Regions from separate parts of the Homo sapiens genome. Here regions 1 and 3 are each linked to region 2. Evidence: fine-mapped expression QTL. A gene starts in region 2. Each other region holds a variant in brackets. All regions are shown on one strand. Distances are between the middles of the regions.

Region 1 (2,753 bases), 36 kb before region 2:
GCGAGGTTCTCCAAATACAAAAACAAGGCCCTGCAGGATGGGGCGGAGTGGAGGAAACGAGATGAAAGTGTGTGGGGAAGACTATCTGGCCTGGACTCTGCACCCTCTTTTCACATCTAGAAGAGTAAAAATACAGAAGTCTTTTTGCTGTAAGACCTGCAAAAGGAGCATGAACAGACTTGAGTACGCCAGGAATGCAAATATCCCCACAAAATTACCCCGTGTTCTTCCCTTGTTAGAAGAGCGTTTGTAAAACCAGGACTTTGAAGCCAAAAGGTGCCATCCGATGTGAAACCAGGCCCGCATGTTTATAAAATCCCTGATCATAAATATTAAAGCTGCAGGTGGCACGGGGCAGGGCTGCCTCCAAGGGAGCTTCCGCCGTGGCTGGCAGCACCCGGGCACTCACACGGCCGGGTGGTGGTGCTTGACCTTCCACCGCCTGGACCTCACCCGGAAGAAGAAGTACATCACCATGAGGAACAGGGATGAAGCCACGTACAGCACGACACAGAGACTCATGTCCAGGCTGGAGAAGTCAACCCCGAGGAAGGGTGCGGCCCCGCCCACCTCCTTGTGGGCCCCGGGCCCATCCAGACTCTGGAGTTTCCCGTCCAAGCTGTGATGCAAGCTCTCTGGAAGGGCAGGCCTGGGGCCCAGTGCACCAGGTGGACGGACGCTCTGGGTGTCTCGGTCTCCATGGGACACCTCTGGGGGAGTGAGTCTTTTCTCCTCTTCCTCACCCCTGGCCAGGGTTCCTCCTTCACTGGAATCCCCCTGGTCTGCGGAATACGTGTCTAAGAGGTTGTCGCGGCCATAGTGCTGCTTCAAGAATGTGAGCACGTGGCCTTCATCCCAGCTGGCCAGGCCCTTAATTTCCTCATGGCAGGCTGGGCAGAGGTCCGGAGTGGGCCACTGAAGCTTTGGAAACCGGGGATCCTCACTCAGATGGCCTAGGAAGAAAAGGAAGCGGGAGAGCCAGAGGGAAGGAGGCTTTGTGCAGCCACGTGCAGCGTGCGGCAACCGGACTCCCACTCCCACCCACCACGGGCCTCCACTGCCCTGGCCCAGGGTCCTGCCAGGCCTCCCTCCCTGCCCTTCCCACCACCCGTCCCTTGCAGTTCGGCCCAGATAACATCCTGCTTCTGCAGGCCCCTGCGCACGTGTTCCCCTCTGCCGGTTCCCATAGCCTGCAAGTGAGGAGACGCTACACGCTCGGCCTCCGCCACTTCCCAGACCACACCTGTCCCAAACCACCCAGCACTCCACTTCCAAAACGGAGCATGCAGCTCTCACCTGGAGGCCTTTCTCCGCACAGTGCTGCCTGTGTGCCCCTCCCCCCACTGCTGCCCCTCTGCCCTTTCCTGAGGGTGCACCTGAGGCCCACTACCTACAGAGCCCCGGCCACCTGGGTGCTATGGACAGTGGGCCTTAGGTGCACCTTCAGGAAAGGGCAGAGGGGCAGCAATGAATTTCCACTGCACTTCAGGTACACTGGCCCTTTCCGGACTACAAATCCCTTCAAGATCTCCAAAACTCGTTTCTGAAGTGACATGTGCTCACTTCCAGGCCCAACAGGCATCCGTCATGCAGAAGCTGCGGC[G/A]CACGGCGCCTCCTAGCTCTCGGAGCCCCTGCGACCCGACTTGCTGACACCTGGCCACCCTCACAGAGCTTCCAGAAGTGAATGTAAACACAACCACGTTTGTCTGGGGGACTTGAGACGTGCCTGAAATCAAGAGATGCCCTACTCGGGCCAGTCACTGACTGCGTGCTTATCCGGCCAACCGGCAGCAGGTGCTGCACACGAAGCCAGAGGGGACAAGCACAGACCAGTGGCACCTTGGTCAGAAGCTGCCAGAGCTTCATGTAGGACTGTCAAATAAGGCGCCAGCCCTGGGCAGAAGACCCCAGGCACATCTCCGAGGGGCCTCCCAGGAGCTTGGGTCTCAATGCACAGGCTGGAGGTGGGACTGGAGTGGGAATCTCAGGAGTGACAATCACACTGGGCTGTAAGGCCCCTTTCTGTTGCAGTCTCATGACTGGGGTAGTGGGGGCACATGCGGGCTGGGGCCACAGGTAGCAGCAGGGGCTCCAGGTCCAGGCAGGCCTGGCGAGGGTCCTGGTCCCACTGCCTCAGAGCCGAGGGCTCGGGGAAAGCACAGGGAGCTCTGTGGGCGGCGGCGATGCAGAGGCTGCCAGGGCGGAGAGACGGAGAAGCTGCGCTGACCGAGGGAACAAACCCCGCAGACACACAGCGCCTTCGTCACATGACCCCGGCCCCGGCAGTCAGGCTCAGGGCAAAGAAAAACCAATTTCTTTAGTGCTTCAGCTGTAATATGTTTTTCTAACACAGTGGATTAAATAAAAACCAATAGTTTAGTGGCATTTTCTATTCATCTCTATTAAGATTTCTCAGTGGAATTATTTTTAAGCCTAATTTTAATCTGCCACTGATTTAGGAACAGTTTGAAGTACTTAACTCTGAGAAAATACATGTGCCCTATTTAATTATTTTTTTTTAACAAAACAAAGCACTTTGAGAGGTTTGGTTTACGTTTGGACAACAGATTTCCATACTACTAAAATTCCTCATCAAAAATTAATTACGTTCCAAGCTTTCCAGAGTCAAAAACATCTTCAGAGTCTAACGGGCTACCAGTGGGTACCGATGGGGGAAGAAAGAGCCACACCCATTTCCACGGGGTCGAAGAGCCCCCGGAGTGAGAGAAGCATCTAGAAAGCCGGGGACAGAA
Region 2 (2,753 bases):
CTTTACAAATCTGTTTGCGATGAGAAAAATACAGCAGGATTGGGTGTAAGGCATAAAAACAAAGGTGCAGGAAGAAAGAGTAGCAATTTGTTACAGATCTTGCCCACTGAAACATGTAATTTGAGGTTAGCACAACACAGGAAGTCCTGCCAAACCTCACTGGGTCGGGAGGACCTCCTACTTCAGTGATTTAAATACCATTTTAAGGGAAGGGTGTTGTGAATGCCCCCTCCCACGCCAACTCTAACCTGTAGAGCAGGCGAGTAACTTCGTGACTGGTTAACAACGTGCGACCAGATGAAAGCACTAAACAATAAAGTGCGGAACACTACCAGCAGTTTGGTGAAAGATTTCTCAAAGGCTGTGCATCTGTGATCAAGGAGCCCACCAATGAAATTCTTTGTAGAGTTAAAAAAATTGCTTTATAGGTTGTTTTGGGGTATTATAGAGAAGTCTCCAGAGTATTTGGACTTCTAAGTTGTGGGTTCACTTTGAGCACCCACTATATGGCCAGCGATCCGAACCAGAAAGTTAATGATGAAGGTTCAAAGGGAATGGGGTGGCTACGAGTGTGGAATAGGAATGAGGGATCCTCAGAGAACAGGAATTCTGGGCACTGGGGATGGGGTGTGTGGACGCTAGGAAACAGGTAGGGTAGGAGGCCTGGAAGGTCAATGAAGTTCTTGGGGCTCAAAACATAGGTATTTTGAGAGCTGGGATACGGGAGGGCTTCCCTATCCCCAAGCGTGCGGTGAGGGCTGCGGGAGAATGGTTTCATTTTGACTTCAGACAGCCCAACTCGTCAGGATCTAACGGGGATTAACTGGGAGAGACATGGGGAGCAGCTGGCTTAGTCTCCCGCCCCTGGAAAGGCCAGGGTTGGTCCGAGTCGGGTGCCTCTGTGGGGCAGGGACTGGCTCTGCGGTAAGGAAAGAAATACGGGGGAGGGGCCCCGGGACCCGCCTTCTGGGGCGGTCGCAAGGGGTCCCGGAAGGCCGCGGTCCCGGGGGTCGGGGGGTCCCCGCGCGGGGGCGCGCCTCACCTCGCACATCCCCAGCCAGGGCCCGCCAAGTGGGCGCGTAGCCGATGCAGTGGCCACACCACGACGAGTAGAACTGCACGAGCCACGCGGCCGAGCTGTTGGCGGTGGCCCCGCGCACGCTGCCGCTGTCCAGCACCCACACGGCGTCCTCGCCCGCGCGGTACAGCCGCGCCGCACCGCCCGCGCCCGGCCCCACCGCCGCCGCCGCTAGCAGCACTAGCAGCCGCGGCAGCCGTGCGGCCCGCGGCGGGGGCGAGCGCCGGGCTCTCAGCGCAGGTCCCGCTCCGATTCCCGGGCTGCGCGCCACCGCCGCCCCGGCCGCCGCCATGTTGGAAGTGCCGCCGGCGCGCTGAACTTTCACCCTGGCAACCACCGTCACGTGCGCCGGCGCGCCCGGCCCCGCCCCCGCGCGCCCAGTTCTGTTCCGCCCCGCCCCCTCACGTCTGACCCCGCCCTCTCTCCCCGCCCCCGCCCCCGCCCATGCGTGGCAGCCCCGCCCCCAAGAGTCTGATGACGCCATCTCCCCGCCCAGGCGCGGCAGGCTCCGCCCAGGCCCCGCCCCACCCCGCCGCGCGTTCCCCAAACCCCTTCCCTGAACAGGGCCAGGTGGCCACATTTAGCAAATGGAAGTGCACGACGCCAGGTTCAACGTGAATTTCAGACAAACAGTGAGTCGGTTTTTCAGCCTAGGTCTGTGCCATGCCTGAAATACAAATTTAACAAGACATTCTTAGACGTAAAAAACTATTCCGGGGTTCTTTTACTTGGCAACCCCACCTGGGGCTTCAGAGGGTCTGCAAGCCAGCCTCGACTTTTTAATATGATATTGGAACGCTTAGAAAATGCAGCAAAACATCCACTCAAAGTCAGATGTGTTGTGTGCTACCTTTTAGGATGTTCCAGTCGAATGCAGCTTCACGGTTTGGAAATGAAATCATATGACTTTTTTGCTTCATTGAACAGGATACCTGATTTTTTTTTTTGTTCCTATTCCTAATTTTTACACATGTCAAGATTTTCTCTGAACTGTGTGACCAAAACAAAACAAGGGAGTGGGCGAGCCTGGGCAACATAGCGAGAGCCCATCTCTTAAAAAAAAGAAAAAAGCCGGGCATGGTGGTGCACACCTGTAGTCCCAGCTACTTGAGGGGCTAAGGTGGAGGATGGCTTGAGCCTGGGAGCTTGAGGCTGCAGTGAGCCGTGACTCTGCCACTGCACTCCAGCCTGGATGACAGAGCGAGACCTTGTCTCAAAATAAATAGATAACTGTATTGTGGGGTTCTGTGTAAGATTTTGTTTAAAAGGTTTTGCTGCTAACAATGGTTAACCCCAGATGAGAGGATTCTCCCCAGAGGGCCCCTGGCCAAGGCGTCTGCTCCCTTTTCCTCACGTCCTGCGTCTCCCTGTTCATGTTTCCTTCCATCACCCACGTTTCCTGGCTTCTGCTCTGTGCCAAGCCCTGGAGACAAATCAAGAACAAAACCGAGCCCCCAGTGTCCCTGGCCTGCATTTGGGCAGACCCCAAACAAACCAACGCGTAAAGCAGCCACCGCGTGCTATGAAAAGCAATGAAGCCGGACACGGAAGCAGGTGCCAGCAGGGCTGCCGTACAGAGGAGGGTGGGGAGGTCTTTGAGAAGGTGACCCGAATGGAGAAGGAGGTGAGGGAGGAGGCACACATGCAAAGGCCCTGGGGCAGAAGGGTGCTGAGC
Region 3 (2,753 bases), 27 kb before region 2:
TTAATACCCTGGCCTCAGGAGTTGCCCAGAGCACAAGTGTAAAAGCTCCAAGCCTAACTAGACTAAGGGGAAGACGGAGAAGCCGGGAGAGGAGAGCAGGTCTGCCTAGCGACAGCTGTGCGACTCCAGCGAATTAGCTGGCCGGCGGCCACCACCACTAAGAGCCACACTGTCCTCCACTAATATGATGGACAGATTAGCAGGACACTTTCTTAAAGGAAATGAGGCCAGCTAGAGATTTCTGAACTCTGGATGGCACCGTGGGGGAAAAAGCTGCCTGGGCAATGTTCATGCATTCATCTGAGGCACCTCCAGTCCTTCAAGATTTCCTGTACTTTTCACAAATCACTTTGTAAGTAAACTCTATCCAAAGTGCTCACTATAAATTATTCTATCATGCATCTTATTTTTGGCAAGATAAATATTTTAAGCCTAAGCCTTCTTGTCATTTAGACAGTAACAAGCAACCGAGCTCATGGAGTTACACCTGGCCACCTCCCTGGCTGGTCCTCTTCAGCCTGACCCTGGGCACGGCCAGGCCTGAGCTCTGTTGGGTGGCATCTCTGCCCGCTCCTGGCGACCCCCTCAGTGGTCTCAGACACCACATCTGTGCTGGTGATGGTGCTGAGCGTGAAGCTCCCAGGACCCCTCCCTGAACCTGGCTGGTGGGGCAGATGCACACCCCACCTGGATCTGCACAGCCCTTGCCTCTCCCTCTCTCTCTCCCCCCAGCCCCCGTGCAGCGCTCCTCTGAGAGCCAGCTGAGGTGTGTGTGGGCCTCCGCTCCCTCCTCCATCTACTCTCCAGGCAGCCAGAGCTGGGCTTTTCCAGCAGGTGCTCGGCTCACACCCCCGCCCCTCTCTACACCCACCGCCCCAGCCCCAGTGCTGGGAACAGCAGTGGACGCAGGAGGCACTCGGGAAATGGGTGGAATGAGTTGGGGCGTGGGCCTGGGCGACAAAGCAAGGTGGAGAGCACCTCAGCGGAGCTGGCGGAGCCCCCGCAGTGTCCGACGCCCCCCAGGGCCCACTCTGTGCAGAGCCAAATTCCCACATGCAGCCCAGACCAGCACCGTCCCAAACCTTGGCCAAGACAGTCACAAAGTCCTTGAGCGTCTTCAGCTCTGCTCCGGCCAGGGACTTGTGGGCTGCCAGCTCCACCCGCAGGAGGTAGTGTAGCCCTGACTCCAGGTCCACCGTGTACAGCTTCGA[C/T]CTAGGACGGGATATGGCAGCGTCAGGGAATGCCCAACCTTTCCCTCCACAGCAAGTCTCCCTGTCCTGGCTCCTCCCCACGGACTCCCAGGGCCCCTGGGAGGGCTCCTGAGCGGCCCTCACTGGCTGGGGTGGGTTTCTGAGTAAACCCGCCCTGCAAGCACGCAGCCTTCGGTCTACACGCACTGTCTCCGGGGGCTTCAGTTCAAGAGGAACACTTGCTTGTCAAATTCTCTCCAAACCACGATTTCTGAATTTTCTTCTTTGTGTGGCTTTTCAGGCAAGGGAAGCGATTTTTTCCTCACATCCGGCAATGACTTCAAATAAGACGAAAAGAAGGCCCGCAGAGGCTTCACGCTGTGAGAGAGGGGAGGGCAAAGGTGAGAAGAGCCTCCTTTATAAAATCCTAAAGTAGGAGCCGTGGCATTCAGGACAGCTCTGGGCCACCCCTTTCATCCTTTGGGCATTTATTGGGGCATGGGAGTCAGTGGGAACAGCTGACACCCCGCCTGGGCTCCGGCTGCGCTTCCACCTGGGGGATAAGAGGAGACACACCAAATCCACAGATTTACAACCAGTTCCAGTTGTAATAAGTACTATGACTCATTTATGTTTGTGGGGACCTTAAGGCGTTTTGTAAAGCTGGGTTGAGCATCTGCCAAGATGAGCTTTATTCTGACTGCGATTTCCAACACGCCTAAGAGCCTTCACCGACGCGCCCACAATCTGCCAGCCCTGAGTGAGGCATCTGGAAGTCGGGGCCTGGGGTGGACGTCAGCCCCTCCCTGATGTCAGGCCCCTGAGCTCCCTGCGTGCCCACCCTGTGTGGACAGGGTGGAGCTGAGCCCCCTGTGTGCCCACGCTGTGTGGACAGGGTGGAGCTGCCTTCTGAGGACACCCTCAATGCCATTATTGAGCACTTCAGTGTGACGTGGAGCTTGTTTCCAAAGACAGAATGTAGCAGTGCTATTTGCAAAAACATTAAAATATCTATAAAAATATTAACATTATTTGACACTAAGAAGTTGTCTAGATGATACTTTTAACACTAAACAAACATCTGGGAGTGGTTCAGGCCGCTCTGCCAAGTGCAGTGCTGTGCCCCAGGCCTGGAATGGGCCACCTCGTTGGCAGAGCCAGGCCCCCAAGCACTCAGAGCATCTCCCAACAAGCTCAATGGCCTCTGTGGTTACCCTGAATTCCAGCTTTATCTTTTGTATTTTCACTCATTTATCTATTTTTGAGACAGGATCTTTCTCTGTTGCCCAGGCTGGAGTGCAGTGGTGCAATTTCAGCTCACTGCAGCCTCAACCTCCTGGGCTCAAATGATCCTCCCACCTCAGCCCCTTGAGTAGATGTAGCCACAGACATACTCCACCACGCCCGGCTAATGTTTTATTTGTCATAGGCTGGAGTCTCACTATCAACCTGGGCTGGTCTCAGACTCCTGGGCTCAAGTAATCCTCTCATCTCAGCCTCTGAAAGTGCTGGGATTACAGGTGTGAGCCTGGCCTCTTTTTCAAAAGGAAAGAAAAATACTTA

What was found. PIP is the estimated chance that this variant, and not a neighbour inherited with it, causes the effect.
Region 1: its variant is fine-mapped to the expression of QSOX2 in whole blood (TOPMed, PIP 0.99).
Region 3: its variant is fine-mapped to the expression of QSOX2 in fibroblasts (GTEx, PIP above 0.99). The same link has a PIP of 0.9 or more in lung and monocytes.

What each region holds. Positions count from the first base shown.
Region 1 is chr9:136,208,323-136,211,075 of GRCh38, forward strand. It overlaps QSOX2 (quiescin sulfhydryl oxidase 2), which reads right to left. Exons shown (of 12, transcript NM_181701.4): 12 at 1-953. The coding sequence ends at 406. Among named protein-coding and RNA genes, the nearest start is that of LHX3, 4.6 kb to the left of the region's middle. RefSeq lists enhancers at 113-664, 665-1,214. The variant G/A (reference allele first, on the strand shown) is at 1,604.
Region 2 is chr9:136,244,434-136,247,186 of GRCh38, forward strand. QSOX2 (quiescin sulfhydryl oxidase 2) reads right to left here and starts at 1,379. Exons shown (of 12, transcript NM_181701.4): 1 at 1,043-1,379. The coding sequence starts at 1,370. RefSeq lists silencers at 907-1,316, 1,347-1,616.
Region 3 is chr9:136,217,597-136,220,349 of GRCh38, forward strand. It overlaps QSOX2 (quiescin sulfhydryl oxidase 2), which reads right to left. Exons shown (of 12, transcript NM_181701.4): 7 at 1,434-1,568; 8 at 1,083-1,212. Among named protein-coding and RNA genes, the nearest start is that of LHX3, 14 kb to the left of the region's middle. The variant C/T (reference allele first, on the strand shown) is at 1,212.